5 separate regions of the Homo sapiens genome follow, and all the other regions are linked to region 1. Evidence: fine-mapped expression QTL. A gene starts in region 1. Each other region holds a variant in brackets. All regions are shown on one strand. Distances are between the middles of the regions.

The links.
Region 2: its variant is fine-mapped to the expression of ZNF226 in esophagus muscle (GTEx, PIP above 0.99).
Region 3: its variant is fine-mapped to the expression of ZNF226 in unexposed skin (GTEx, PIP above 0.99). The same link has a PIP of 0.9 or more in blood mononuclear cells and whole blood.
Region 4: its variant is fine-mapped to the expression of ZNF226 in whole blood (INTERVAL, PIP above 0.99).
Region 5: its variant is fine-mapped to the expression of ZNF226 in unexposed skin (GTEx, PIP above 0.99).

The regions. Positions count from the first base shown.
Region 1 is chr19:44,161,719-44,168,149 of GRCh38, forward strand. It overlaps ZNF226 (zinc finger protein 226), which reads left to right and starts at 3,382. Exons shown (of 6, transcript NM_001032373.2): 1 at 3,382-3,424; 2 at 4,039-4,089. RefSeq lists enhancers at 3,074-3,223, 3,284-3,403.
Region 2 is chr19:44,367,358-44,373,788 of GRCh38, forward strand. No RefSeq gene overlaps it. Among named protein-coding and RNA genes, the nearest start is that of ZNF112, 14 kb to the left of the region's middle. The variant T/C (reference allele first, on the strand shown) is at 3,369.
Region 3 is chr19:44,206,379-44,212,809 of GRCh38, forward strand. ZNF227 (zinc finger protein 227) reads left to right here and starts at 6,154. Exons shown (of 6, transcript NM_182490.3): 1 at 6,154-6,207. RefSeq lists enhancers at 1,291-1,390, 1,401-1,450. The variant G/A (reference allele first, on the strand shown) is at 2,876.
Region 4 is chr19:44,074,199-44,080,629 of GRCh38, forward strand. ZNF284 (zinc finger protein 284) reads left to right here. Exons shown (of 5, transcript NM_001037813.4): 2 at 2,124-2,206. The coding sequence starts at 2,192. Among named protein-coding and RNA genes, the nearest start is that of ZNF284, 5.3 kb to the left of the region's middle. The variant G/A (reference allele first, on the strand shown) is at 3,547.
Region 5 is chr19:44,061,071-44,067,501 of GRCh38, forward strand. ZNF223 (zinc finger protein 223) reads left to right here. Exons shown (of 5, transcript NM_013361.6): 5 at 4,994-6,431. The coding sequence ends at 6,207. Among named protein-coding and RNA genes, the nearest start is that of ZNF284, 7.9 kb to the right of the region's middle. The variant T/C (reference allele first, on the strand shown) is at 3,050.

The DNA of each region.
Region 1 (6,431 bases):
AAGCATGGGTCCCTAACCCCTAGGCCACAGACCCTGTTAGGAACAGGGCCAGACAGCAAGAGGTGAGCAGTGGGCAAGTGAGCAAAGCTGAGTTCTGCCTTCTGTCAGATCAGTGGCATGAACCCTATTGTGAACTACGCATGTGAAGGATCTAGGTTGCAGCCAGGCGCAGTGGCTCATGCCTTTAATCTCAGCACTTTGGGAGGCTGAGGTGGGCGGATCACCTGAGGTCACGAGTTGGAAACCAGCCTGGCCAATATAGTGAAACCCCATCTGTACTAAAAATACAAAAATTAGCCAGGCATGGTGGCAGGTGCCTGTAATCCCAGCTACTTGGGAGACTGAGGCAGGAGAATCACTTGAACGCAGGAGATAGAAGTTGCAGTGAGCCGAGGTTGCGCCATTGCACTCCAGCCTGGGCAACAAGAGCGAAACTCTTTTTTTTTTTTTAAAGAAAGGATCTAAGTTGCTCGCTCCTTGTGAAAATAAAATGATAAATGTAATGTGCTTGAATCATCCCCAAACCATCCCCATCCCCCCACCTCACCTTGTGGAAAAATATTGTCTTCTGCAAAGCTGGTCCCCTGTGCCAAAAAGGTTGTGAACTGCTGGATTAAAGGGCTTTACTCAATAAATTATATCTAACTGGGGAGACTTTTTTCCACTATTGATTTTCTTCAGTATACCTTCACTGGATGCTTGCTACTCATTAAGGTCCATGCTACCTCAATGTGCATGGTATGCTGGGGATTGATAATACCACCTTCACATTCTTGTAATTCACTAGGAGGACTCAAGACACCCTATGTTATCATAGTCACTATGATTTATTGTAGTAAAAGATACCAAGTCAGTTGAGCAAAGGGAAAATGTGCATGGGATGAAGTCCAGAAGAAATCAGGTACAGGCTTCCAATAATCCACTCCCTGTAGAATCATTCATGATGTACTGTTTTTTCAGCATTGAAACATGTGAAATGTCTACCCAGTAAGCTCAATGGAGACTTAGTGCCCTAGGCACTACGTTGTGTTTTGTTTTGGAACTGGTCACATAGGCCAGCTTGGGCCAAAATTCTAGATTCCCAGAAGGAATTCAGCATAAATCACATTATACAAATAGCCGGGGCATGGTGAGCCACTCTCATCAGAGAATTGTGGAAATCCTCCTGAAATTCAAGTTCCCAGATACCAGTCAAGGGCTAACCTTATATCTTGCGCTGCTATAACAGAATACCACAGATTAGGTAATTTATAAACAATATAAATTTATCTGTCATAGTGCTTGAGGCTGGGAAGTCCAAGGTCAAGATGCTGGCAGGTTTAACATCTGGTGAGGGCTGCTGCTGTCTGCTTCCAATATGGCATCCAGTTGCTGCATCCTCTGGAGGAGACAGATGCTATGTCCTCATATGGTGGAAGTGATGAAAAAGCAAGAAGGGATTAAGTTTTAACAAGGGAACACCATCAAACTATAGCATGTTGCAAGCAGGCCTTTTAAGTACAACAGTCTCAGGCCTATGTTAACTCTTTTCTGAACAAAGGGCTTCAGAAATCCAGTACCTATATTCTTTTCTTTCTTTTTCTTTCTTTGTATCACCAGATACCACATTAGGTCATCTTCCTTCAAGGTAATTTGTAACCAAAACCAGTAGACTAAACCAAATAATTTCTTGCCCCTCTGCCCCATAACTGATAAGACTGTAGGTACAGTCTACATCTACCCTCCTCATGACCAGAGTTTTCAGGTTAGTCACAAGACAGCTGTAGAAGCTGGGAGCTATCTGGCTTTGTTTTTGGTTGGTTGTTGTTTGTTCACAGTCAAGAGGAGAGAACTGTTTCATTTGTAATATTGTATAGTTCATGTCTCCCAAAATGCATGGCTACTCTAACTCCCATTCACACACAAGATTAATTCCTTAGCTCTTACCTAGTATGCCCAGCCCTTGTGGGATCATTCAGTTTTTTCATCTGTGGGCCTAACTTGCCTGTTCATCTTTGGCCGTTGGGATTTCCCTGTCTTAGCTTTGAGTTTAGCTACATTTTAACGCTTTAGGGGATATTGTCACATAACATTTTTCTATCTTTGAAAAGATCCACAATATTATGTAATGATTACCACTATCTAATCCTAGAACTCTTTCATCTGCTCCCAAAAGAAATCCCCTACATGAGCTGGGTGTGGTGGTGCATGCCTGTAGTCTCAACTACCCAGGGGGCTGAGGCGGGAGGATCACTTGAGCCCAAGAATTTAAGGCTGCAGTGTGCTATGATCATGCCTGTGAATAGCCACTGTACTCCATTCTGGGAAACATAACAAGACGCTGTCTCTAAAAAAGTAAGAAAAAAAAAACCCTACATATTGACAGTCACTCCCCATTCCCAACTACATCTCCCCAGCCTTGGAGACAACTAATTTACTTTCTGTCTCTATGGACTTGCCTATTCTGCACATTTGATATAAATGGAATCATACCATATATGGTATCTTGTGTCTGGCTTCTTTCATTGGACATAATGTCTTCAGAGTTCATCTATGTTATAACATGAATCAATATTTTGTTCATTCACATTACTAAATAATATTGCATTATATGGCTAGACCACATTTTGTTTATCCACTCATCAGCTGATGGACATTGGGTCTTCTCCACTTTTTGACTATTATGACTAATGCTGCTATGAACTTTTTTAGAACAAGTTTTTGTGTGGATATCTTTCAGTTCTCCTGGGTATTTACTTAGGAGTGAAATTGCTGGCACATAAGCCCCAGATCGGGTGCCAGCAGATTCAGTGTCTGGTGAGGTCCCGCTTTCTAAGTCATACATGGTCCTTCTGGCTGTGTCCTCACATAACTAAAGAGGCAAAGGAGCTCCCTCAGGCCACTTATAAGAGAGCATTAATCCTATTCATGAGGGCATTGCCCTCTTGATCTGATCACGTCCCATAGGTTCCACCTCCTAATATCTTCTTGGGAGTTAGGATTTAAACATACGAATTTGGTGGGGGCCATAAACACTCAGACCATAATAATACCTAAAGAGAAGTGAGGGATTCTGGGAAATGAAAACCAGGAGCTCAAGGTAGTTGGACACTTCCACATCAGAAGGCTTGGACATTCCGGAAGTGTAGTCCAGGAGGGCGGTACTGTTCTGTTTTTCCCCCAACTCCAGCATTCTGTGATATGTAGTCCGGAGTTCCGTGTAGTCGCGCATAGCTCAGCTGCAGTAAGGCTGTAAATGTTTCCCCTGCGGAATCCTGGGAACTGTAGGTCCAATCGTTCTAGGTAGTTGTAGGCACTTCCGGCTCGAGGAAGGCAGTGCTGTGGAATTCTGGGAAGCGTAGTCCAGGTCCTCCTGATACTCGCAGGCACTTCCGCCCAGGAAGACGACGTAGCAGCCATCTTTTCCCTGGCTTTGGTGATTCAGGTCAGCTTCTCAGGAACCTTTCAAACTTCCCCGAAATGCACTTGTGGTCAGCAGCTAGCGGTCTTTTGTTTGGGGAAAAAAAGGAGTAGCGGCTAAGAGCGGAGGTTTGAGGGGCCAGGATGCTGTTTTGCGTTTCCCTGGGCGGAGCTTGTTAGAATTGGGGGCGTACTGGCTTCGGGCGGCTGGGGTGATGCTTCGTCGGGTTTGAAGGTCTCTCGGGCTGTTCGCTCCCTCATTGTGACTCCCCCACCTAATGAGCCAGCCCTACCACTTCATACAGTATCACATTGAGCGAGTTAGTTAATCCCCGTGCCTTCGTTTGCTGTTCTGAAGGAAAATAAAAGCAAAAACTTCCTAATAGAATGTTTTGAGAGAAAACGAGGTAATACAAAAAGTGTAAAACTGCCTGGCACGTGAATTACCAATACTACTGTAATTTTCCTAGAAACTCCCGTTCTGTGGCGAAATTCTGTGAGTCCATGAAGCTGGATTGTCCCTGACCTCTTTTGAGGAAGGAGAGGGTTGCTTCTAACTGGTCCTGGGAGATGCCACTGTGATGTATCCGGGATGAAGACACAATCCTGGTTACTTCATAGCCTGTTTTTCTTCCCCAGCCCTGACTTCTCAAAAAGCACTGCACAGAGGAGGAGGCAGCAGAACCCCATGTGAGTAAGACTTGTTGTTATTCTTGTTTTATTCACATAAATCAGAGAATGTGTGGGGTCATGTATTTGGGCATGAGAAGTGATTATAATTTAGCGTTAGTTGCTAAGTTCCATTCTAAGGGGTTTATACAAATGAACACCTTTCCACTATACAGTGGCTCTGTGAAGTGATACTCTTTTTCCGAGGAGACTGAGACATAAGAACATAACTTGTTTGCTCATAGCCACCTAGCTAGTAGGAGGCAGAGCTAGCATTGAAACCGAGGCAGTCTGAGTCTAGACCTGAGTCTTCTTTGGTATGTTCTGCATGAGCCATAGGCAGCTGGCTAGTATCATGTGAAAATAGGTTGGGACTTCACTGTGGGGACTTTGCTCAAGGTCTGGGCTATTCTATGACTTTTAAAAAATAGTGGCTGGGCACAGTGGCTGACGCCTGTAATCCCAGCACTTTGGGAGTCTGAGGCGGGCAGATCACTTGAGGCCAGGAGTTTGAGACCAGTCTGGCCAACATGGCGAAACCCCATCTCTACTAAAAATACAAAAATTAGCCAGGCGTGGTGGCCAACACCTGTAATCCCAGGAGTTTGGGAAGCTGGGGCAGGAGAATCGCTTGAACCCAGGAGGCGAGGCTGCAGTAAGCTGAGATCACACCGGTGCACTCCAGCCTCGGCAACTGAGCAAGACTCTGTCTCAAAAAAAGAAAAGAGTTTTTAAAAATAGTTTTCTCAATTATTAGTTTTATTTGTTTCAAATAATATAGAGGTAACACATAATCATGGAAAACACAGAAATACATTTAAAAAATGTAAATTCCCCATGACCTTAGGGTATAAAGATAACAACTATAGTTTAGTGCCTTTCTGTCAAGTTTTTCTTGTATATATTTCTGTTTATTAGGGGCTGTTTTGGGAGAGGGACTGAGTACAGTGCAACACTACTCAAACTGTGGTTCACAAAGCAGCAACATTGGCATCACCCAGGTAGAAAGGCTCATTCTTGAGCCCTACCGAAGGCCTTCTGATTTAGCATTTTTGCAGATAGGACCCAGAAATCTGCATTTCAACAAGATCCCAAGGTGAGCGAGATGCATGTTAAAGTTTGAGAAGCTCAGGAAAAGGTCTTATCTGGAAACTCAGGACTAGAAAACTGACCCTGCCAGATGTCACAGATAAAACTGAGCTGGCCATACTAGAACCCTACTCAGTCCAGTGATTTTTCTTTCCCACTAAATATTAACTGTCAAGTTTCTTTGCAAAAACCATGACATGAGTAGAAGGCAGCTGTCAAGTCTAGAGTCAAAATGGAGAAACTCAGAGTCCTGAAGATCTATTTCTCCCAGGCTTTGGGGAGTAGATTCCTTCCCATCTTTTGTACTGGAGGCCTTCTGCCTGAAGTGGGAAGATCAGCTACCTATTTATTGTTAATTAACGTTAGATATTATTGCCATAGTTGTCATCATCTCGTCATCGTTATTATTCTGATTAATGACTTTCCTAATTTCTTTAACTTTTTTTTTTTTTTTTTTTTTGAGGCAGAGTTTCACTTTTGTTGCCCAGGCTGGAGTGCAATGGCGTGATCTCGGCTCACTGCAACCTCCGCCTCCCAGGTTCAAAAGATTCTCCTGCCTCAACCTCCCAAACATCTGAGATTACAGGCACCCGCCACCACACCGGCTAATTTTTTTGTATTTTTAGTAGCGATGGGGTTCCACCATGTTTGCCAGGCTGGTCTCGAACTCCTGACCTCAGGTGATCCACCCACCTCGGCCTCCCAAAGTGTTGGGATTATGGGCATGAGCCACCGTGCCCAGCCAACTTTTTTTAAAAATATAATTTCAAACTTGTAGAAAAGCTGCAAAAATGATAACGTAAGGAAATCTCATATACTCTACACCCAGATTCACCAGTTGTTACGTTTGTTTGTTATGTTATGTTTTCCCTGTGTGCTCTGTTGATGACCATCAGCCATCACCAGGAACATACCTGTAACCAACAACAATTGTTTGTTTTAGCTTGCTGCATCCAAGGAGCCCACACATGCATGGGGTGTCTTGGTAAGAGGCAATTAGGAGGACCCTGGTTATAGGGTTTTGGTTTATGTTAGATGAGTTGGGGAGAGTTTTAGGCAATGGGTTTGTTCTGGATTGGATGCTGTGAAGAAGCAGTAGTAATTTGATCAGACTATTGTAATTTTTATGTTGGAGGTGGGGAAATAACAAGACTGGAGTTGTCACTGATAACAAAGTGGTCATGTTAGATGGAAGAGGCAATTATTTGGCTATTTTTATCAATGTAGGATGTATTTCTCTCTGTGTTACAAGCTGTTTTGTTTTTTTCTTTTTC
Region 2 (6,431 bases), 210 kb after region 1:
ATCCTCGCAAAGAATTGGCAATGTCGTTGCCTTTCTCTGGCGGAAGGCTGGCTACTACCCTTTGAATTTGGAATGTATGTCACACAGTTCTAGAGTAGAATGCAAACTCAGCACTGTCCTCTTTGAACCAAAATGTCTCCAAAAACAAGATTCTAATTTATACTTAATATTTCCCCCAGAAGCCCAATCATTAAAGCCACCTTTCCAGGAACAGAAGTGTTTTTGACACTGTGAATGCTTTGGACCAGTTTCCAGAATCCTCTTCAGGTAGTGCTTCTCACCAGCGTTTCCCTTTTTATTTTGGATAACTAGGTTCAGTCCGAATCATTCTATCTCACTGGTCAAGCTCAGCCTTCTTCTTCCTTATTCTCATTTTTTTTCTTTCACATGTGACAAAACAAATGCATTTGAACGCCCCTCCCACCCTGTCTCCCACCCAAATCCCTTTAGTAGAGAACACAGTTTGAAATGAAAAGGAGGCATAGATTATAAAGGGGAAGATATGTGTAAGCAAAAAATGCAGAACTTAGAAACTGGGCACGAATGTAAGGAATACAAGATCTCAAACCTACTTTGACTGGATTTTCTACTTTATTCCATGTGTTTTGGATGCATCTAGAACTCTTGGCAGTGTTATCTGATATATGCTATTCATTCCATGATACAAGAACCACAAGAAGGTCATGCAAAGTTTATTAAAGTATAAAGCAGAAGCAGCAAAAGCTTTTGGGTGTTCCTTGACTTTAATTGCTCATTGTAAAACGTGGCTCATGAGGCGAATGAAAGGAGGTGTGTTCATGTGAAGGAATTATTATAATATGAAAAGAGATAAATATATAAAAATTTGAAATATCTTTTTGTTCAAGTTCAAGCATCACATCACCCACTTCCACCCTATTCTTATTATCATAAATACAATGATAACTGAAGAATATGAAAACCAGTGAGACCATATTTCGTTCAAGTGAGTCGATTGAGAGTTGGACGCAAATCCAGAAAACCCAACAAATAAAAATACACGAAGGTTCTGCTTACCACTTTTCTTCTGGACAAGAACTAAACATTTTCATACCTTTATGTTATGAAAAATTTCAAACATTGATAGAAATAAAGAGTGAAGTATTCCATTGCCTCATCACCCAGATTCAGCAATTTTCAACATGTGCCACACTTCCTTTATCTATCAATATTGTCTTTCTGCCCTTTTTGTTATTGTAATTTTAAAACAAAATCATGACACTGTATTATTTCCCCCTAAACACTCCCATGCATACTTCAAAGAATTACATTTTCTAATATAACAAAAATACAACTGTCACACTGAAGAAAGTTAATAATTCCTTAATATTATTTTATGCCCTAAAAAACAAAACTTCAGAATTTCCAGTCATCTCAAAAATGTCCATCCTTTGCATGTGATCGTTTTGTCTCTTGAGTCTCTTTCAATCTGGAAGAGTATCCCCCCTTTGATCCACTTTAAATTCATGCTTTTGGCATATACAAGACATCAGGTCAGTTGTCAAGTAAGATGTCCCACATTCTGGATTTTTAAAAATGTTTCATTATGCTGTCAGTTAACATTTTCTTGAATATCTTCTGTGGCTCTGGTAAACTACAATTTAGATTTAGAAAGCAGATGAGATTAAGTTTCATCGTTTTCGGCAAGAATACTTCTCCATAGGTAGGTTTATTTTGGCCTTGTTCAGTAGCATCACCTTCTCCTTAGTGCAGATCACAGCACATTCTTGAATATTACTGTTTCCTACAGCACCTAAGATACTACACCTCAATCATGCACAAATGTCCATTAGAAGAAGAACAAGGTTAAAAGAGTTTGAGGGAAAGGGTGAAGACTTTAGGAATCAAAATTTTTTCTCTTTCAATTGCTAATCTCATCCTATTAAGCATCCATAGTCTTGCAAAGTGTGAAAGAAAAATAAATCTCGGGACCCCCAAATCACCAAGCCAGAGGGAAAAGTCAAGCTGGGAACTGTGTCAGGCAAACCTCCCATTTGATTACTTAATAAGATAGCTGTAAAGCAGAAAAAGCTACATACCTCCTTCACAATTTGTCCACAGGGGCCTGTTTGTGGGCCTGAACATCTTTATCCAAAAGCATTTCTGTTGAATTTCACCCTGGTAATGTAAATTGATAGCTTATCTTCACAGGTGTGGGATAAAGGACAGACAGAACTCAAAGTCATTCCTCTGTTCACCTGAAACAAATGCATATCTGATTGCTTCCTCTTCCCTATTGTTTATGTAGTAATGCAGATTCACTAAGCAACATTAAGACCTAAGTCACTATTCGTCTACCCACCTCTCACTTGTGAGTTTTGTATTCAGTAAAAGGCTAATCAGAGCCTCAAAATAATGCCACTGTTTGTCTCTTATCTACCTATGATATAGAAGCTCCCACTCCCATTCGAGATTGTCCTGCCTTTCTGGACTTAAGCAATGTATAACTTACACATACTGTTTGATGCCTGATTTCTCCCTAAAATGTATAAAATCAAGCTGTGCCCTGACCACTTTGGGCACATGTTGTCAGGACCTCCTAAGGCTGTGTCACAGGTGTGTACTTAACCTTGGCAAACTAAATGTTCTAAATTCATTGAGACCTGTCTCACATACTTTTGGGTTCACAAAAGTATGCTTTAGTGAACACCCATGTCCATTTGTTCTTGATCTTTAAATGAGTGTTACCATAATATAAATTCCTTGAATGGAGACCCTTGAATCTAAGAGTATGCACAGTGCATAGAGTCATATTACCAAACCTATCCCAAAACAAGTGATCTGATTGACTGAGCCAATAGTATTTGAGAGCATTTTCCCCCCAAAATAGATGCCATGAATTGAAATATCCCCTTTCATGGCATGTTTAAAATACTTCTACCATTGCACATACCGACTTATCAAAGTTATCTGGTCTCTGATCTCTGTACCTCTAAAGCAATGCTTCCCAGCCAAGGTCACATACACTGAGAAAGTGTCTCACAAATAACTTTTAAGTGATAACTGATACCAAATCTTATGTTATTTAAAAACAAAAACAGAGGCAAGTCAATATTCCTCACATAATAGCATCACTGGTGCCTGAACTGAAGTTCACTCTCTAGAGTAGGAGACCAAAAGATGATTTTAAAGCTGCTGGGCCAGGTAATATACTTAACCTGTAGCCTTTGGGACATATGCTATTGACTGGCTCACAGAGCATCCATTCATAATCCCTTTGACCCTGCATGTCTCTTCTATAAAATTATGGGGGAAAATCAAAATACTTTCTTAATGTTCCTTAAGTCTATGGTTGTCATGGGACAATATTTTGAAACAATTAGATGTAAGTGTCAGTCTTCTGTTTATAC[T/C]AGAAAGAAGAGAAAAGATTTGGTTGGTATTGAGGATATGAGATGAACAAGGGATATTGAAAATGCAGTAGGATCAATGAATTGTAGAAATTGATGAAGTCAATATGACAGTAAACCATAGGAAGATCTGGCAAGAGAATATGTAGAGCAGACTGTAATGCCTTAAATGGAGACTATGGAGGGATTGCAGCTATTGCTAATTTAAGGCCTATAGTATGACCATGGAAATGAATACCCCAAGTAGGATAGACAAAAAAGACGACCAGAGGCATGGAAGTCAGTATATATCTCTTAAATTGTAAAACATTTCATATATACATAAAACTATGAGAATAATTTTTAAACACATCCCAGATGCCCAGGTTTAACAAGTGCAAATTCACTCAATAGAATACAACACAATCATTAAAGATGAACGTTATGAAGAACGTGGGAAACAGCAAAATTAACTTATGGTATATTACTAACTGAAATACTAATTTAAAATTTACACATTATTTAATAAAAAGCACATCTCTACATAAGTATAAAATAAACCAAAATGAAAATGTTACATGAGGGTGGTGCTAGTAGGATTATAGGTAAGTCCTAACTTAGTTCTGAACTTACTTGTAATGAGGTCCTGCCACTTAAAAAAAAAAAAAAAGTTCCAGACACTTTTAAAAAGCCATATTTATTGAAGTGCAATGTACATACATTATAAAGGCTACTATTTTTAAGTGTATAGTTCAATGAGTTTTAACAAATATGTACAGACATGTAACTACCAACACAATCAAGTTGCAGAATATTTCCAACGCTTCAAAAACTTCCCAAGGAAGCGGCAATGCTGATTGGTGGGTCCAACAGAAGGGCTACGGGAGTACAGGACCCAAGAAACCATCAAACCCAATGATGCAAGACCCTGCCTCATTCCCCAGCCTGGGACTCGGGAACCTCCCGTAACACTGGAAAGCTCTACTGAGTCGAGGGAAACGCAAACATTTCCAACCCTAATCCTCCACCGGCTGCCACTTTTCCTCCTCAAGACAGAGGGCCTTGACCATCTTTGGTCCCTCACCCAGGCTGAGGAGGCGCAGAAGGGTCTCTAAGGCTCAAGTCTTGCATGCAGCATGATGGCCGCAACTTTCCCTGGAGCGGAAGTTCCTGCGACTCACTTCCCAGAGTCAGGAGTCACACCAGAGGGCCACACCCTGTAGTCCCGAAGAGGAAGTGTTGTCGACTATATGAAACGTCTGACCCACACTTCCCAGAATGTTTAAGCGGAACGACGACAAGGACTCCACCAGCCTGGGCGAAAATACTTCCGACTACAGTTCCCAGAATACCCAGCACGCTAGTGCTTCCACCTTCCTACAGCTCATTCTGTTAGTTAAGTGCGTTCAAACTGAAGGTCACTTCTGTGGCGCGATTAGTGCTTGGACTTTTTATTTTTGTAATTTTTTTTTCCTCAAGAAAAAACGAGTATGTGGAAATATAAAGAAAGTATGACTATTTGGGGATAAAAGCAAAGGCTTTAGTATGAAAAGAAACACGCTTTAGCGGAAAAGTGATGAGTATGAGAAAAAACAAGATTCTAAAAGGGAGTTGGGCTGTCCACTGGACAGAACCTTAAGGAATATGGAATCTCCAGACGTGGTTTAACTCCGTTGCCTCTTTATATGTGCCTGTAGTCATCTAGACCTCTGCTTATGCTATCTGGCATGGACAATTTATTTCAAGATGACAAGAATCCACAAGGAATTCCAAGGACAAATCAGTCTTGAAATCAAGCACAGAAAGAGCAAGTTGTATCTGAAAAATGAAGGAAGCTGTACTGGCAGGAAATTTAGAAAATATGATATGGAAAATGGCTCCTTTCTTGAAATTTTTTGAGTTCAAATCAGGCTTGGAATTGGCTATTCCTCTGTTGCCCGTTGACCTCATATATTTAACATGAACGTATCTTTTCTACAAATCAGTTTAAGCCATGTGAATTTATGGTTATTCAGGAAGAGGTGGGTAGGTTGAGATGGGAGACGGACTCCAGATAACTATAACAAGTCAAACTACAGGAAGTATGTACTTACCACTTTCCTTCTGGGCAGGAAAAAAAATTTTTAATGAAACTTTCGATATTAACACAAAAAGGCGGAGCTTGCAGTGAGCTGAGATCACGCCACTGCACTCCAGCCTGGGCGACAGAGGAGACTCCGTCTCAAAAAAAATAATAGTAATAAATAAAAAAAAAAGAAAAAAGGAAATGATAACATGAAACACCAAATGCACCTACCCTAAATTCAACACTTCCCAACATTTTGCCACACAGGCAATATCTATGACTATTGAATTTTGTTACTGAAATATTTTAAAGCAGATCCCTGGCCTTATCCCTTCCCAATACTATCTGTATCACTTAAAAATAATGATGTTTTAACATAACCACAAAACCGTTACCTTATGAGATAAAATTAACAAATCTTAGTATTATCTAATATGCATGCCAATTTGAATCTGTTTTTTGGGGGGAAAATGCTTTTACAGCTGGTTTATTCCAGTCATTATCCGAACATTTTGATCCATTGTATTTGATTGTTATCTCACCAGAAAGTCATTTACTCTAAAACTATGCCCCCACCCCGACCCTCCCACACACAGCACCACCACCACCATTTTTTATTTCCTTGAACTGTTGGGGAAATAAAAATGTCAAATTAGGTGTCTAAATTCTGGATTTGTCTAAAGCCTTCCCTATATTTTCTCCTCTGCTCTTTTAAATGTTCTGTAAAGTAGAAATTTGATGTAAAGTCTAGATTAAATGCAAGTTATTGGTTTTTGCAATACTTCATAGAAGGGACTGGAAATATTTGAAACAGAAACCATATTCTCTTCAACTAAAGTCAATTCAAATCCTCAGCAAGTTTCCCTCTGAAGAGAAAGACAAAAATAAATAACAGCAAATATGCAAAAAGAGACAGATTAAAATATGGAAACCATCATAACAAATCAGATTCTAGACTTGAGTACAATGGCTCATACCTGTAATCTCCAGCACTTTGGGAGGCTGAGGTGGGAGGACTGCTT
Region 3 (6,431 bases), 45 kb after region 1:
GTCTCGCTCTCTCGCCCAGGCTGGAGTGCAATGGCTCGATCTTGGCTCACTGCAACCGCCGCCTCGCAGGTTCAGGTGATTCTCTTGCCTCAGCCTCCAGAGTAGCTGGGACTACAGGTGCGCACCACCACGCCCGACTAATTTTCATAGTTTTAGTAGAGACAGGGTTTTGCCATATTCTCCAGGGTGGTCTCAAACTCCTGACCTCAGGTGATCCAAGGGCAACGTTATCTAGCAAAAAGAAGCTTATTTCATAATAAAGTGTTGAATATCATATAATTTATTGAATAGGTATTGAAAGGGAAAAACAGAAGGGTTGTATAGGTACTGTACTGAATGTGTGTTGCTTTCACACCATCATGAAGTCGAAAAATCTTAAGTGAACCATTGTTAACTCCAGGACCTGTATATGATTTCAAGGCTTTCTATGTTTCCTTCTAATCATGTATTAAAAGCTCTCCTGTTTATCAGTGTTTTTCTCCTTATGAGTCTGTCAATCAATTTTTCTTTATAAAGTTTGCTTTACATTATGTAAGGCTGTTATAGTTGATAGAAAATTTTCATTACTATGAAGTGTTTCTTTGTATATCTTAAAATGTTCTTTTCTTCAAGGACTATTGTACTTTGTCCAATATTAATATATTTTAAAATTAGAGAAAGAATATGAGGCCTAGGACGATAGTCTCTTTCTCCATTAGAATATTTTTGTTTATGTCAGGTACCTGCAAACACTAACAGAAAAGGTTTACTTTAATCTATTTTCAGGTACGAATGTGATTTCAAGTTTTGCTTCAGTCCCCTAGTGAAGATGATCTATTTGCCCTTTATCTTTACTCCTGTAGTGCAGCTCTTTGGGTTTTACTAGGTACCCTTCTCCCGATCCCCAACTTCTTCCCCAAGGCCCTTGAACAACAGAATCGGTAGGTACCACCAAGACAGACACTTCCACTCTAAAATTGCAAATCTTGGCTAAGATTTGCTCTGGCTTTCTAGGATACCCGGAAGCTCAGGTTACTCGGAAGTATTTCCGCTCCAAGGAGCGGAACTATGGCCGGTTTCCCCTGGGGCATTCTGGGAAGTGTAGTCAGGGGCCCGCGTAGCCTGGGGCACTTCCGCTTTTGGATGGCGGAGCTAGGGAATTGTGGGAAGTGATCCGGGGTTTCTCTTTAGTTGCTGGGAAGTTTTTTCGCTCTAGGAGGGCGAAAACAAGTGTTTGGATCCGCTGGGACCCTCCAAGTTTTCTCAGCCTCGTCAGGGAGCAAGCGGGGCCCTGGCCCTCGTCTGGAGGAAGGCTAGAGAAGCTGTGGCCAGCTGGGAGGCTGGAGTTGGGAGCAGTTTGTGTTCTTTCCTCTCGGCTGAGCCTCACGTTTGGAGCAGTTCTTGCGTCCCCGGGTTGGGAGCGTCCTGGATCGGTTGTCGCTTGGTTAGAGGGTCTCCTGGCGTTCCGCAGCCAGCCTCTCCCACCTACTTGCCAGCTCTGCCACTTACTAGTGTTATAACGTTTTGTGAGTTAATCTTAATCTTTCTCTATCCCATTCTCCTCATTCCTGAAGTAGAGTCATTAGTAGGAGGTCCTTGTACTTTTATACGAATTATTCATTAAATGTCCAAAATACCGTTATGTGGTAGGTACCACTTATGTTCTAACAGAGAGACGAAGATAATAGACCTCTCCACACAATGTAGAAAAGAAAGCTGTCTTATTACTGAATAAGGACAACCACTGTATAGTATTGTAGGCAATCTAAAGAAAAATATTATTAAAAAATTCCGCCCTATGTGTACAGTCAAGCAGTTTTAAACTTTTTATACAATTCTACTTTTGACCACTATGTACATCAGTTCTCAAGATTAATGATTTTTCAATAAGAGGACTTGGTCTCATCATTTACTGCAAATTCTTTTATAAATTTATTCTAAATTTACTTGAGAATCCAGTGTTAGTTAACTAACTTTATCGAAAGTAATAAAACTTCTCTTACCTCATCTGCTAGCCGATTTACAGTTTAAAGAGAGGCACCTTGGTTAAACTCTTGCAGTGATAGGGACAGTGGGTTGTTATTTTCTCAGATGTTTATATTCAAAAGGGACAAATCTCAGAACTTTCACAAATACTTCTAGGTTGTAAACCTGGCTAGAGGCTTACATAGCCGCTAATGAAATTTACATGCGTATCAAAAGGTTAGAGAAAGGATTCAGAAGCACTAGGTTTCTTATGGAAATGCTCTAAGAAAAAGAAGAGGGAAGACGAACCCTAAAACGTACAGTTAGTAAGAGGCAGAACGTCCATATGAACCCAAGAAGTTGGAGCCTCAAGTCTGTGTTCATATTCTCCACGCTGTACATTTTTCTTAGAACCATATGAAATAATCGTGTATATGGTTTGTGGAAGTCTTTTTCTATCAGGTTTGGAAGGTGATCTGGGGCTTTAGAGTCTATATTCTCCTTATAGAAATAATGCATGACCATTATAGAGAGATTAGAAAATACAGAAATGTATAAAAGGAAATGAAAGTTACCCATATTCACTGCTGTATATTTAAACAATTAGCTGGGTGTGGTGGCACATACCGATAGTCCCAGCTACTTGGGAGGCTGAGGTGGGAGGATCGCTTGAGCTCAGGAGTTTGAAGCTGCAGTGAGCTATGACCACGGCACTGCACTCCAGCTTGGATGACAGCGAGACCCCGTTCCTTTAACCCATAATCTCAGGATTTAGAGATAACCACTGCTAACATTTTAAATGCATTTATGCATTGGTGCCATACCACCCACATGGTATTTCTCTAATTTTTCTTGTAGAAATTCCCAAACATGCACATACAGAAAATAGTGTTAATGACCCCCACCCCGCCATCATTTGTCTTTAACTCTT[G/A]TAAACATTTTGTCTATCTTATTGCATCTATTACTCTTCTCCCACATATGTTTTTGGTGGGAAGAGGAGGAATTTGACTATTTAAAATCAAAACCAAATCCTAGTCAGTCGGTAGAAATTAAAAGTAATTAACATAAAGTAATTATGAATGAAGAGCAAAGGAAAGCAAATAACTTCAGGGTTTTCTTTCCTGGCAACTAGGAGGAAGGTAGTTATGTGAAAAACCTAAAGGAGAGGGAATCATTGAGATTTGGAAAGGAATAGTTATGAATTTGGCTTCTTTATTTGGAATGTTTTACTCAGGGTCTTTTATTTATTTATTTATTTATTCATTTTTATTTATTTATTTTTGAGACGGAGTCTCGCTCTGTCGCCCAGGCTGGAGTGCAGTGGCGCGATCTCGGCTCACTGCAAGCTCCACCTCCCGGGTTCACGCCATTCTCCTGCCTCAGCCTCCTGAGTAGCTGGGACTACAGGCGCCCATCACCACACCCGGCTAATTTTTTGTATTTTTAGTAGAGACGGGGTTTCACCGTGTTAGCCAGGATGGTTTCGATTTCCTGACCTCGTGATCTGCCCACCTCGGCCTCCCAAAGTGCTGGGATTACAGGCGTGAGCCACAGAGTCCGGCCTACTCAGGGTCTTTTAGATCTGATCTGTTTCTCCCTTAGGCTGCATGTTACTTTGTTGCAGGAACTATGTCCCATTCTTTACCATGTGCTTAGCACCCAGCACAAGACTGGTAAGGAGGGGTTTAGTGTTTGTGGTTTGTGGAGCTGCCCAGTATCTTGAAATGGAAACCTGCAGATCATTTAGATTGTATTCAGAATTCCCAAAATGGATTTAGGAAAAAATAAAAGGAAATAATGTCAATATTAGTGACTCTTTATCTCACTTTTGGTGGGATGCATTTGCATAGTCTTCTAGTTTTTTTCCCAGTAATCAAAAGTTGATGCATGGTTATTGATAATATTTTAGTGATCAAAGCAAATTTTTGTAGAAACCTTCCATCCATAATTTATGTGTCCTGTGTTTATCCCCTGAGGTTAACATTTGCTAACTTTTTATAGGGTAGTCATGAATCAGGCAGAATTTCCAGTGTTTTACATGTATTTATTCATTTGTACTTGATATCAACCCTATTATAGTCTCCATTTTACAAATGAAGAAAAAGGGGACAGAAGAAATGGAAGCACTAGTATTTTAATCTAGATAGCTTTATACTAAGGCTGTAATATTAGCTACTACACACTACTTTTATTAGTCTACAAGGCAAGAACCCACAGTAAGTCTTATTAGAGCAGGGAATATTTAAGCTATGGATGAAGACCGTCACCCAGGAGGGAAAAGAGTAGCAGGTTATGACAGAAGGAACACCAAATACAAAGAATTAGAGGCTTTTTGTAGGAGTACAAGTAATCCACTATGGCTGGACATGTAGAGTGGAAAGTGGATTCCAAGAGAGAAACAGCATCTGGAAAATTCCTGTTTGTGCGACTTGTTAAAGCATTTGAACCTTCTCTTAAGGGCACTGGATAGACATGCAGGTGAAAATAATCAAATTTCCATCTTAGGAGATATACTTAACCTCTCTCTGCCTCTGGATCCCAAAGAGTAAACTAGAGGACATTATTTGTTTTAAAAAAGTTGTGAAAATGGGCTAAGTGTGGTGGCTCATGCCTGTAATCCTAGCACTTTGGGAGGCCGGGGCGGGTGGATCACCTGAGGTCAGGAATTCAAGACTAGCCTGGCCAAGATGGCAAAACCCCGTCTCTACTAAAAATACAAAAATTAGCTGGGCGTGGTGGGGAGGGGGGTGCCTATAACCCCAGCGACTTGGGAGGCTGAGGCAGGAGACTTGCTTGAACCTTGTGTGAGGGCGGAGGTTGCAATGAGCCGAGGTCATGCCACTTCACTCCAGCCTGGGCAAAAGAGCCAAACTCTGTCTAACAACAACAACAACAACAACAACAACAAAACAGAACAAAAAAAAAAAGAAAAAAGTTGTGAAAATGTAGTGAGGGTCCCATAGTCTGAATAGTTTGAACTAGTTCCTGGCACATACTTGGTTCTTTATAAGAGATAGTTGTATATAACAGAATAAAGAATATATATTTAGTAAATGAGAACTGCAAACATGTACTGTAGTAGATATGTGGATATTTTTAGGTATTGCTCTCTTCTTTCAACCCTCAATTCTTGGAAACATCAATTCCATTATACATTTAAGCAAATAAAGATCAAGGTTTAAACACTGAAGTAATAAATTTGTTCATCTTTCAAATTCAGAAACTCCTTGAGGAATGATTACAGAGGCCCTAGTTGCTTTGTGGAGTTGATCTACCATATGCCAAAGCTTGTGTTTTCTATGTCTAGCTATCCTCAGTAAGCAAGTTGTTCTGAATTATATGACTGTGCTATTAAGAAAAGTGGAAATCCATAATATATTCTGCCTTCGTTGCATTTTTTGATTGCTCTTTCATTCTTTTAGTATCTAAAGAGTAGTTTTTCTATTAGTCGATCCTGTTAAATGTAAAAACTTAAAGGGTTTCCTCTGCCCTTTTTTTTTTTTTTTTTGGAAGTGGTGGGTATAATTCTATTAGTACAGGATCACGTGATCTGTTTCTTATAATAGTTTTTTTTTTCTTTTTTTTTTTTTTGAGACAGAGTCTCACTCTGTCGCCCAGGCTGGAGTGCAGTGGCACGATCTTGGCTCACTGCACCCTCCAGGGTTCAAGCGATTCTTATGCCTCAGCCTCCCAAGTAGCTGGGACTACAGGCGCGCGCCACCACGCCCGGCTAATTTTTATATTTTTAGTAGAGACGGGGCTTCATCATATTGGCCAAGCTGGTCTGGAACTCCTGACCTCGTGATCCGCCCGCCTCGGCCTCCCAAAGTGCTGGGAGTCTTTTTTTATTTTAGGGCTCCAATTCTTCACATATTTGCTGTTACTTTTTGTTAATAAGAAAAACCTAAATTCCACTGACATCAGAGAACTGCTTCAGCCTGGCTAAACAGCAATAAGCCGTGAAGAGGATTCTGGATGTTGTAGTCCGGGAGCTCCGAGAATTTTGTCACACTCTCCGTAACCCTCTCTCACTCGCTCGCTCCGTTTTTTTTTTTGTTTTTTTTTTTTTCAAGCGCGAAGAGGGCGGCACCTGGATGGTTTTTCCTTCTGGAAGTTCTGGGAAACGTATTCCAGAACTCTGTCCGGAAACAATTGGGCCGCAGGAGCGCGGGCCTTCTGGGAAGGGTAGTTCAGGAGCTCTGGGCAGGCAGAGCCACTTCCGCCCCGGAAAGCGAGGCCGCCACCATCTTTTGGGTCCGGGAGGTGAGTCAGCCCTGCACCCCCACGACCCCTCTTGAACCTTTTCAGCCTGTGCTTGGGAATAGGCGCTCCCCAGCCATCAGTCTTGGGATGGAGAGGTCGCGGCCGCGGCGGAGGCCGAGAGGCCGAGGGCGGGAAGTTTGCTCTCCTCCCGCACTTGGCAAGCAGCGCCGCTAGTTCTGTGGGTATAATAAACAGCGAGTTACCTATGATCCGCGCTCCTGTTT
Region 4 (6,431 bases), 88 kb before region 1:
CAAAATTAGCCAGACATGGTGACGCATGCCTGTAATCCCAGCTACTCGGGAGGCTGAGGCAGGAGAATCGCTTGAACCCGGGAGGCGGAGGTTGCAGTGAGCCAAGATTGCACCATTATACTCCAGCCTGGGCAACAAGAGCGAAACTGCATCCTCTGCCTCCCGGTCTCAAAAAAAAAAAATATTTAACGTTTTATTTTCATATCATTTGAAACCTATAGAAAAATTGCAAAAATAGTGTTAGAAATTCTCATATACTCTTTACCCAAATTTGCCAAATGTTTACATTTTTCCTGTTTGCTTTGTTCTTGCTGATCACCCAGATACCACCAGGAACATACCTGTAGCCAGAGACAGTTGCTTGTAGCTTTCTGCAGCAAAGAAGCCCACATTTCAAGATAATTGTGGGGTGTCTTGGTAAGAGGTGTTTAGAAAGGGCTGGTTATAGGGTTTCACATAACATGCTAGATACTATTAGATATTATACTGGCTAGGCATGGTGGCTTATGTCTGTAATTGTAGCACTTTGGGAGGCCGAGGCAGGTGGATCACTTGAGGCCAGGAGTTCAAGACCAGCCTGGCCAACATGGAGAAACCCCATCTCTACTAAAAATACAAAAATTAGCTGATTTGTCCACTGTGAAGTTACTTTTTTAAAATTTGAGGGGGCGTGCGCCTGTAATCCCAGCTATTAGGGAGGCTGACGCATAAGAATCATTTGAACCTGGGAGGCAGAGGCTGCAGTGAGCTGAGATGGCGCCCCTGCACTCTGATCTGGATGACAGAGTGAGACTCTGTCTCAAAAAAATAATTAAATATTATATTAAATAATATTGTTATCTATTACATATCACATCTGTTAAAAAGCTAATAATAGTAGTTGTAGTGTCATTTATTAGATAGTGTTGGATACCATATTACATAACGTTGTTATCTAATCTGCAGCTTCCATATTTAAATTTATTCAGTTTCTTCTTTTGGTCCTTATAACTATCCCTTGCCCCACTTTTTACCTGTAACCCCATTCAAAGTCCAATTTTATGCATTGTCTTTATTGTCACATTTCTATACTTTTGTTTAATCTAGAAGGATTCCACAGCCTTTGTCTTTTATATGCATGGTTTTTTGAAGAGTATAGGCAAGTTGTTTTGCAGAAAGACATTCATTTGGGGTTTGTCTGGTAAATTTCATGTTTACGTTTAGAGTATGCATGATTGGCAGGGATACCATAGTAGTGGTGAGATGTCCTTTTCATTGCAACCTAACAGTGTCCAAATGATGTTGGTTTGTCCCTTCACTGGTGATCTCAACTTTGTTCACTTGGCCAAGATGAAGTCTTTCAGATTTGTCCACTGTGAAGTTACTTTTTTTAAATTTTGAAAATAATAAAGTTCCTTATGGGGAGATACATGATTAGTGGACATTCTACTGTAAAGAAGAGTTTCCATTTCTCCCCCATTTATTCATTCCTTCATTCAACTATAAATATTCTATTGATATGGACTCAGAATTCAGTCTTACTGATTTCAATGACATGTAGATTAACAATTATTTTTTCCAATTCTATCAAGATGTATTTCACATATAGCTTTCACCCATTTCAGGCATGGAACTCCGTGATTTTTAGGAATTTTGTGAAGTGGAATAACCATGATCATGATTCAGTTTAGATCATTTTTATCTCCCAGTTGGACTCCTTGTGCCCATTTATAGTTAAACCTCATTCTCATCTCAAATGTGAAGCAACCACTAATCTACTTTCTCTATGATACATTTGCCTATTCTGAACATTTCATATAAATGCGATCACACAGTCCATGGGTTTTTGTGACTGCCTTCTTTCATTTAACATAATGTTTCCAGGGTTCATGCATGTTGTAGCATGAGTCAATATTTCATTTCTTTAAATTTCCAAGTAAGATTTCATTGTATGGATAGGCGACAATTTGTCCATTTACCCATAGGAAGGCATTTTGGTTGTGTGCAATTTTGGGTTATTATGAATAATGCCCCTGTGAACATTCAAGTGCTAATTCACAACACATGTTCATACTGTTGGGTGGCATCACTGACCACCCCTTCATGTCTCTTTTTTTTTTTTTGCCTTCCATGGCATGTTTCAGGCACAATTCTGTCTTCTCTTGAACTGCATAACTGAGAACTCTGCAAATTCCCCAAAGAAGGAGGAAAAATGACCATGTTCAAGGTGAGTAAGTCTGGTCTCTTTTGCTGTTCAGATTCTGTTTTGCTACTTAAGATTGTCACATGTTTTTCTCGGTCTTGGGAAGACTCAAGGAGAACAACAGTTATTTGTGCACCTGTTGTGTGCCAGATGCTTCCTTGTTTCTTTTGTGTTGAATTTGCGTTTGGATTTGATTTTGTTTACTTTTACCATTATTTATGTTATGAGTAGAAATTTAGTGGGAAGGAACAATTCTCCCATTTCACTACATCTTTTCTCACTAATTAGGCATTTTTATTTTCTCATGCTATTCCTCATGTATATTCATAACTGTATTTGTATTGATACTTATCTAATTTAAATTGTGTTCTTTGTGTTTAATATTATGTAATATTCATTATTTATGGTTGCATCATGTTCCCATTGAATTGATGCTCCTTTTTTTTTTTTTTTCCTCGAGACAGAGCCTTGCTCTGTTGCCCAGACTGGAGTGTGGTGGCGCAATCTCGGCTCACTGCAACCTCCGCCTCCCGGGTTCAAGCGATTCTCCTGCCCCAGCCTCTCAAGTAGCTGGGATTACAGGCGCTCACCACCACACTTGGCTAATATATGTATTTTTAGTAGAGACGGGGTTTCACCATGTTGGCCAGGCTGGTCTTGAACTCCCGGCCTCAAGTGGTCTGCCTGCCTCAGCCTCCCAAAGTGCTGGGATTACAGGTGTGCACCACTGCACCTGCCGATGTTTCTTTTTAACTACTTTATACTCACAGGCACTAGGAGCTCAGTTTTGAAAGAGTACTTTTGACATGTGCCACGTTGGTTGTTTTGTAGATAAAATATCCATATGTGGCATGGCACAGCAGGCTGTAACTGTGGCTTCACACAAGGATTTCTGGAGATTTTCACATAGGAAGAGCTAGCTTTTGTTTTCCCCATGCTTAAGTCATGCATTGTGTGTATGTTATTTACTGGTCTTTTCTTATTCCTTTATGTATTAAGGAGTTTGACCAAAATGCAGCATCCTGGGCTGCACATATATCGGTTTCGGTGAATCTTGCCAGTTGCTCCAGCAACATTTAGCAATTCAGTCTCAACTTTGTTTGATAATGCCCAGGGTTCTCGTACTTGAACCCTGGATGTAATCATTTTTCTGTCTTTTTTTTTTTTTTTTTTTTTTTTAGTTTTTTAGTTTTGGTAGCTTTAGTTTCAAATGTCCATGATATCAGAAGATTCTCTAGTCACTGTGTTCTATTCCTTTGTTTGTTCCTCAGAACAGCTGAATGATGCAGTTCTCAGCCTCATCTTCCTCTTAAATATGTGAAATATGAGAAACCTGCTGAGGTTCAGAGAGGAAACCTAGGGTC[G/A]GCATGTTAGCTATTTTGCTAAATTGAAAGAGAGAGAGAAGAAGAAAGAGGATTCTCCATTGAAGGACCTATGCCTTCTGGTATGGGTGTCTGGAGTGCCCTCTTGAGTGATGACAACCACTGGTGACATAGCTCCTCCCTGACCCCTCCTCGGGGGTCCTCTTCTCTTCCTGTTGTGCCACCTCCTCAGGTGCACCTAGTACTCCAGGCACCAAAGGACAGTGATTGCTACACTCACTATAGAAAATCTTTAAATTCCTAATGGCAAAGATGGCTTATAGAGTGTTACCAGGGAATATAACAGCCTAAGGTGAAAATATTTACCACTTTGATATCTAAAAAAGACATAATCCAAAATAAGAATCTTATGTACAGAATGGAGAAAAAAATTCAAAGGAATATGAATAAAGGACATTAATACATTAATTGGTAAATTTTAGAGAAGAAATAGAAGTGGCCAATACATATTTGAAAAGGTGATAGTATTATTTATATTCAAATACATGGGATTAATAAGGTGAATTCTCTCTAATGAGATTATCAAAATCACAGGAAATTTGATAATCTGCTTTTGGCTATTTTAAGAAAAACCAGGGTAATATATCCCCTTGAAAGATTTTGGAGTTTGAGAAAAAATTGAGATCTGACATATATGATCACAATTTTAAACATTCTTATTTTTTGACACTTTAATTTTCATTTGAAATTATTGTATTATAGTTTATTCTTATTCTTTAGAGACAGAGTTTTGCTCTGTTGCCTCGGATAGAGTACAGTGATGTAAGTGTAGCCCACTGCAGCCTTGAACCCCTGGGGTCCAGATCTTCCTGCCCCAGCCTCCCAAGTAGCTAGGACTACGGGCACGCACCACGATGCCTGGCTAGTTTTAAAAATTTATAAAGTTGGTGTCTTGCTGTGTTGCCTGGTCTGGTCTTGAACTCTTGAATTCAAGCAATCCCCCCACCTTAGCCTCTTAAAGCACTGGGATTACAGGTGTGAATCACTGCACCTGGTTTGAAATTATTAAATTAAACTAAATTATTATTTTATTTTATTTCTTTTTTGAAATAGAGTCTTGCTGTGTTGCCCAGGCTGGAGTGCAGTGGCGCAATCTTGGCTCACTACAACCTCCGCCTCCTGGGTTCAAACGATTCTTCTGTATCAGCCTCCCAAGTGTCTGGGATTATAGTCACGTGCCACCATGCTCGGCTAATTTTTGTATATTTTGTAGAGACGGAGTTTTGCTATGTTGCCAAGGCTGGTCTCGAACTCCAGAGGTCAAATGATTTGCTTGTCTCGGCCTCCAAAAGTGCTGGGATTACAGGCATGAGCCACCATACCTGGCCAAAATTATTTTCAATGATCAGACGGGAGAGTAAGGTCCACATACATGATTTTCTTTGCAGGATTGGTATTAATGAAAACTACATAAAATTAAATATTCATTATTTAGAATAAAGATAGATCATCAGTTCCCTGTAATAGTATGCAGACATGAAATGAAATAGATAACTATAATGAAAGTTATAATAAAAAATCCAAAGAAATACGAATAAAGGACATTACCAGCCAGGTGCGGTGGCTCACGCCCATATTCCCAGCACTTTGCGGGGCTGAGGTGGGCAGATCACCTGAGGTCGGGAGTTTGAGACCAGCCTGACCAACATGGAGAAACCCCATCTCCACCGGGTGTGGTGGCTCATGCCTGTAATCCCAGCACTTTGGGAGGCCAAGGCAGGCGGATCACGAGGTGAGGAGATCGAGACCATCCTGGCTAACATGATGCAACCCTGTCTCTACTAAAAATACAAAACATTAGCCGGGTGTGGTGGTGGGCGCCTGTAGTCCCAGCTACTCGGGAGGCTGAGGCAGGAGAATGGTGTGAACCCAGGAGGCGGAGCTTGCGTTAGCTGAGATTGCACCACTGCACTCCAGCCTGGGGACAGAGTGAGACTCCATCTCAAAAAAAACAAAACAAAACAAAACAAAAAACAGCAAAAAAAGAGAAACCCCATCTCTACTAAAAATACAAAACTAGCTGGGCATGGTGGCGCATGCTTGTAATCCCAGCTATTCAGGAGGCTGGGGCAGGAGAATTGCTTGAACTGGGGAGGTGGAGGTTGCCGTGAGCTGAGTTTGCGCCATTGCACTCCAGCCTGGGCAACAAGAGCGAAACTCCGTCTCAAAAAAAAGACAAAAAGGTAATAAAATTAACTAATGTTAATTAAATACCTAGTCTGTGCCACAGACTTTCCCCATTTATATTCTCTTGCTTATTCCTGGAGAAAACTGATGTGACAGTCTTTATACAGAAAGGAAACGAATGCATGTAGGCAAACTTATCCAAGGTCACGTGGCTGGGAAGGCAAAGGCACAGAGCCTTGGGATTGAGCCTTGTGAGTGAGCACACACACTCAGTGTGATCATAGGCACACTGGCTCCAGATCATGACATTCAGTGCTGCAATTAATATATGTAGTTTGCGTCTTGAATACAGAGGACCCACTCCATGGCTGTCCCACACAGGTCACTGTAAACTTGTTAGTTTGGCAGATATTAAAAAAAAAATGGGCCGGGTGTGGTGGCTCATGCCTGTAATCCCAGCGCTTTGGGAGGCCGAGGCCGGCAAATCGCCTGAGGTCGGGAGTTCGTGACCAGCCTGGCCAACATGGTCTCTACTAAAAATACAAAATTAGCTGGGCATGGTGGCAGGTGCCTATAATCCCAGCTATTCAGGAGGCTGAGGCAGGAGAATTGCTTGAATCCAGGAGGCAGGGGTTGCAGTGAGCTGAAATCGCACCACTGCACTCCAGCCTGGGCGACAGAGTGAGACTCTGTCTCAAAAAATAAAAAGAAAGAAAGAAAAATGATTACATCCAGGGTTC
Region 5 (6,431 bases), 100 kb before region 1:
TAAGAGCCTTTCTGTCTTCTTAATTTTATGAAAGCCTCTTTAAGTTGCTTCTAGAAACCCCTGTGGTCTACTCTTCATTTTTCACTGCTTCTTGACTACATCTCCCATACTCTCCCTCATTCTCCATCTTTTCTGGCCACCTTGTCATCCCTCTTATTTCTCCATCCTGCCAAGGACACTGTATCACCTGTTGCTGGTACCCAATGACCACGAACTTAGATGATTAAATAAGAAGCATTTATTATTTCTCTGTTCTTTAGGCCTGAAGTCTGACACATCTCACTGGGAAAAAATCAAGCTGTCTTAGGGCTTTGTTCCTTTCTGGATGTTCATGGGGAGAAGGCTTCACTTTGTTTTACCAGTCCCTAGACACTGTCCACACTCCGTGGCTCTAGTTTCCATTCCTCCATCTTTGAAGGCAGCTACATTGCATCCTTGACCATTCTTCCAGAGTCATGCTCCCTCTGCCACTCTTCTTATGCCTATGTCTTTCACCTTTCAGGTCCCTTGTGGTTGTATTCATCACTCCTGTATGATCCAAGTTGACTTTCCTACTTTCTGCTTAGCTGATTAGTGACTTCAATGACATCTGCAGCCTTAATCTGCCTTGCTGTGTAATGTGTCAGAATCATAGGTCCTGAAGGCTGGATGTGGACATCTTTCAGGAACAATTATGTTCCCTACCACAGAAGCTTCTGCCTCAGGGCCCTCACTTGCTTTTCTCTCTGACTGGAGTCCTCTGTTCCCACAAAACTTACTGACCCCCTCTGTTAGTTTATGCAGGTGTCTGCTGAGTTTTAATGTCATGGAAGAGGTCATCTTCAAGCACCCTATTGAAAATACCATCCTATCTTTACTTGGCCTGCAAGTATTATGTGTCATATGCTTTTGTTTACTGATAGATCACCTGTTCCCTTTCAAATATAATCTCTACAAGGTGTTTATCTGTTTGTTTATGACTGCATCTTCAGTGCCTAGAATAGTCCTAGTACATGGAGGGATCTGTAAATATTTGGTATCCTGATGAATGAATTAATGGATGGGGGGACTTCACTGTCTGTAGGAATCATGGAGCTAGCTAATAAGTAATACATGAACCAGAGTGTATGAAATATATTAGTCCCTTGGAAGCCATAGGGGTTTGATTTCAGGACCCCACATGGATACCGAAAGCCAGAGATGTTCAAGTTCCTGATATATGTGAAGTCTTTGCCTATAACCTATGTACATCCTCCCATATACTTTAAATCATGTCTAGACCAGTTATAATACCAAATGCAATGCCTACCTGTCACTTCATTCACAAGGATTCAACATAGGACTCAGTGTGTGAGAAATTCCAGTTTTGCTCTTTGGAACTGGAATTTTTTTCCCTAAATATTTTTTATGTCCTGTTGGTTGAATCCATGGATGCCAAACCCATGGATATGGAGGGCTGATTATATATTGCAGAACAGATTTTTTTTTTCTCTGTGGATGGCTGCTTATCCATTTTCAACTTTCTTAGGTTTCCTTGACATGATTGGTTTTATGTGTGTGCAGTTGACCCATGTCCTGTGGAAACTTCTAAGCATAGCATTTTTTTTTTCATGACCACACTGAGTAATATGCCTTCCCTGGGACCTACCCTGGAGCTTTCCATAGGGAGCATATTTATATCTGAGAAGAAAGTCTTTTTGAATGAGGATTTGCAGCTAGCTTTCCTTTGAGAGATTTACCCATCTGCAGCCCATTTGCCTTTTCCAAAGTCGGCCCACACTTCACTGCCTCCAGTTCCTCCTTCCTTCCCTTAGAGGGGGAAGAATGAGGATGAGAGGACACAAGTTATGTAGCTGAATGTTGACTCTGTTTCTGGTCATCTTTCTTCAAAAATGTGCGTATTTCCCTTTTCTTTACATTATGCAAATTTAATTGTCAAAAAGTTAAAGGACAGGCTTTTTGTTTATTTTTATAGATTTAGTGCTATATTTTGAACTAGTAAGCTTTATGACCTGGAAGGAATTGGGGAATTACTTACTCAAAATAGAAACATCCTGAGACCCCTTCCCATCTCCTTAAAGACCTCTTATTTATAAGTCACAGTGTATTAAATATATCCATGTACCTATTAGACAGGATTGTTCCCTTGACCATCTTTGCGGGCAGGAACTTCAGGGTTTGTTTCACTCAGCCCACCGCTGTCGATTCCTTGCAGGAGGGAGTGTGCAAGCGAGCAAGTGCAGGAACCGGAGCAAATGAATGCTGGAATTGGCTGGTCGCTCCTCTCTGGCGAGAGCAGGCTCTGTTATGCACGCCCCACAGCAGTGTCCAAGCATGTTACAACCCATGCTGTTTCAGCTCTGCCATCTGGGGATGGCCAAGTGCCAATCAGCTCAGTGGAGCATCAGGGTAGCAGCCCCTGCCCTCTTGGCACCTGGGTTCTTGTCCAGCATCCAGGAAGAACCAGGTCACATGAACTGTGTGAAAGGTGATGAACGCAGAAGACTTTATTGAGTGGTGAGTGGTTCTCAGCAGAAAAGGAGGCTGGAAAGGGGCTGGGAAGGGGATCAACATGTTCCTGAAGCCAGGCCATTTGTGGCTGGGCCCCTCTCCAAAGCAGCACCTTCTGAAGTTAGCCACATCTATCCATACTTTCCGACACTCAGTTGCTTCTCTGCTCACCGCTCAGCGACTTGTATCCTTGCCACTCAGCTGCTTGTGTTGCTCTGCCAGCTGAAATCTTTTATGGTCACAGGATAGTGGCAGGCAGGCCAAAAAAAGCAACATTGGGGCAGAAAAATGGGGTCATCTGTTTTCACTTAGGGCTGAGGTTCTAGGCTTAAGGGTGGAGTTTGGCTAGGTATACTGATGGGTACCCACTTACCTATTAATATTTTCCAAGTTTCAACCTTTGGAACTTAACTCTCCATCAGAAAAATTTACCTAATTCAGGACTTGGTAATATCCTGACAAAGTTTTGAACATTTTGTGAGCATGAACCATAATAAGAAACACCTCTTTCAGTATAACCTGGACAGTTTTCATGCATGTAGGTGTATGTGAGTGACTT[T/C]AGCTGACATTTCATGTAACGACACCTTTCCTGCTTGTCTCCACACTGTGATAATTTTCATTCTGGCTCCTTTCTATAAATGTCTATTGAAGGTTTTAACTTTATTTCAGCTCACTGATGTGTAGTCTTGAATATAAAAACAGTTAAAAAGGCCTGTTTATCTACATCATAGGCTTTCTTTTCATTCCAAGTGATTCTTCACATCATTGATTGTCTGATGAAGAGCATCCTCCTTTGTGGACCTCTGGAAGGACAGCCTTTCAGATTCCCCTCAGAACTGCAGTTGTCTGTCTCTGTACTCTTTCAGATAACCAACTTATCATCCATATCAAAACAGAAAAATAAGATTAAGTATTTTATATGTGTCATGCAAAATTCTTGTATAGGAATACTTTCGATTTGTAGATATAAACATTCTAAGGTGTTTGATGTTTAGTATCATGAAGGGTTAAACTAAAAAGTTTAATGGGACATTTTACAGAGAACTGCTCTCACTTCACTCCAAGTGCAAATTCGGCAGTTTTTCAAAACTACCTTCACATTCAATAATTTCCTAGAAAGACCCTCAGAACTCACTGGATGTATTTATTCTCACAGTTACTGATTTTTACAAGCAAAAGATGCATATTATAGTTAACCAAGGGGGAAAAACCAAATAAGACAGAGTCCAGTGAAGTACCAAATGTGGATCTCCTATTGTATTCTCACAGTAGAGTCGGGCATGTTACATACCCAAAATTAGCATGTGACTTAGACACAAGGAACCACCAATCAGGGAAACTCAACTGAGTGCTGGGATCCAAGTAATTATTGGGGCTCCATTACATAGCCATAATTGGTTGGTTGATTCCTGTGTGGTTATTTAGTCTTTTGGTCCACTGGTTCCCTGTGACCTAAAGACCTACATTAAATCACATCGTTATTTTTTCTGACATGGGGAATGCCACCTGCCATTTCCCATCCCCCAAAGCTGTGGCTAGTCACAACCCTAAATTATATTATTTCACTGTCAAGAGTTACCCAAGATTTGCCCCCAAGCAAACAGAGAGACTCTCCTCAGGCATGCCCCTTCAAGATTCTACAGATTACCTCTCAGATACTGAGGACAAAGTCCTGACCTCTTTTTAGTTAGGTTAACTCCTTTTCTTATTTTTAAAAATGTTTTTTAAGCCATCTTAAACTGAAAGGAAGGTTAACTTCTTTATAAGGATATATAATATACAGGCAAATATACGAAGTATTTATTATGTTACTGCTTTCCCTTAGAGTTCCTTTTGATTCATATTTCATTACGTACATAATAGTTTAGTAATTTATCATGTAAAATTTCAGACTGAGTTGGAAATTTTAAAAACAGTAACAGGTTAAATGTATGTGTCATATTAATTTTTTATTAAACCTTTTATTTCTATCAATGATTTTTTATTTGAAATGTGGTATGTTTTTTTCTTTCTTTTCTTTTTTTTTTTTTTTTTTGAGGCAGAGTCTCACTGTGTCGCCCAGGCTGGAGTGCAGTGGCACGATCTCGGCTTGCTGCAACCTGCGCCTCCTGGGTTCAAGCAATTCTCCTGCCTCAGCCTCCCAAGTATCTGGGATTATAGGTGTGTGCCACCACACCTAGCTGATTTTTGTATTTTTAATAGAGACGGGGTTTCACTATGTTGGTCAGGCTGGTCCCGAATTCCTGACCTCAAGTGATCTGCCTGCCTCAGCTTCCCAAAGTGCCTTGGTCTCCCAAAGTGCTGGGATTATGGGTGTGAGCCACCGTCCCCAGTGACATGGTATGGTTTTAGATTACTCTCATGCAAACCAGAAACCAGGGTGCACTTGGAAAACACAAACTGAACATTCGTTGAAGTTTCATACCATGTCCTAAGTGTGAACTCTTAAAAACACTGAACAGGGCATAGCTTGTCCTGATCTCTTAATTTTGTATTCTGATAGGAGGCAAGATCCAACCTGAGATGAAGACTTTTCCAGAAGCAGGACCACATGAAGGGTGGTCCTGCCAGCAGATCTGGGAAGAAATTGCAAGTGATTTAACCAGGCCTCAAGACTCTACCATAAAGAGCTCTCAGTTCTTTGAACAGGGTGATGCCCACTCCCAGGTTGAGGAAGGACTATCTATAATGCACACAGGACAGAAACCTTCCAATTGTGGGAAGTGTAAACAATCCTTCAGTGATATGTCCATCTTTGATCTTCCTCAGCAAATACGCTCAGCAGAGAAGTCTCATTCCTGTGATGAGTGTGGAAAAAGCTTCTGTTACATCTCAGCGCTTCATATTCATCAGAGAGTCCACCTGGGAGAGAAACTCTTTAAGTGTGACGTGTGTGGTAAGGAATTCAGTCAGAGTTTACATCTGCAAACTCATCAGAGAGTCCATACTGGAGAGAAACCTTTCAAATGTGAACAATGTGGGAGAGGCTTCAGATGTAGATCAGCACTTACAGTTCATTGCAAATTACACATGGGAGAGAAACATTATAATTGTGAGGCATGTGGGAGGGCCTTCATTCATGATTTCCAGCTTCAGAAACATCAGAGAATTCACACAGGGGAGAAGCCATTCAAATGTGAGATATGTAGTGTGAGCTTCCGTCTTAGGTCAAGTCTTAATAGGCATTGTGTGGTCCACACAGGAAAGAAACCAAACAGCACTGGGGAATATGGAAAAGGCTTCATTCGTAGGCTGGATTTGTGTAAGCATCAGACGATCCACACAGGAGAGAAACCATATAATTGTAAAGAATGTGGGAAGAGCTTCAGACGGTCCTCCTATCTTTTGATCCATCAGCGAGTCCACACTGGAGAAAAGCCATACAAATGTGACAAGTGTGGGAAGAGCTACATTACTAAGTCAGGTCTTGACTTGCACCATAGAGCCCACACAGGAGAGAGACCTTATAACTGTGATGACTGTGGGAAGAGCTTTAGACAGGCCTCAAGTATTTTGAATCATAAGAGACTCCATTGCCGAAAAAAACCATTCAAATGTGAGGATTGTGGAAAGAAGCTTGTATACCGGTCATACCGTAAAGACCAACAAAAAAACCACAGTGGAGAAAATCCATCCAAATGTGAAGACTGTGGGAAGCGCTACAAGAGGCGCTTGAATCTTGATATAATTTTATCATTATTTTTAAATGACACGTAAGTGTTGTACATATTTATGGGGTACAGTGTGATATTTAAATATATGTATATGATGTATAATGATCAAATCAGTGTAATTAGCACATTTATCACCTCAATTATCTCTTTTTTGTGTTGAGAAAATTAAAAATTCATTGTTCCAGCAGTTTGAAAATAAATTGTTGTCGATGATAGTCACCTTTAGTGCTGCAGAACAGCAGAACTTCTTCCTCTTATCTACCTGTA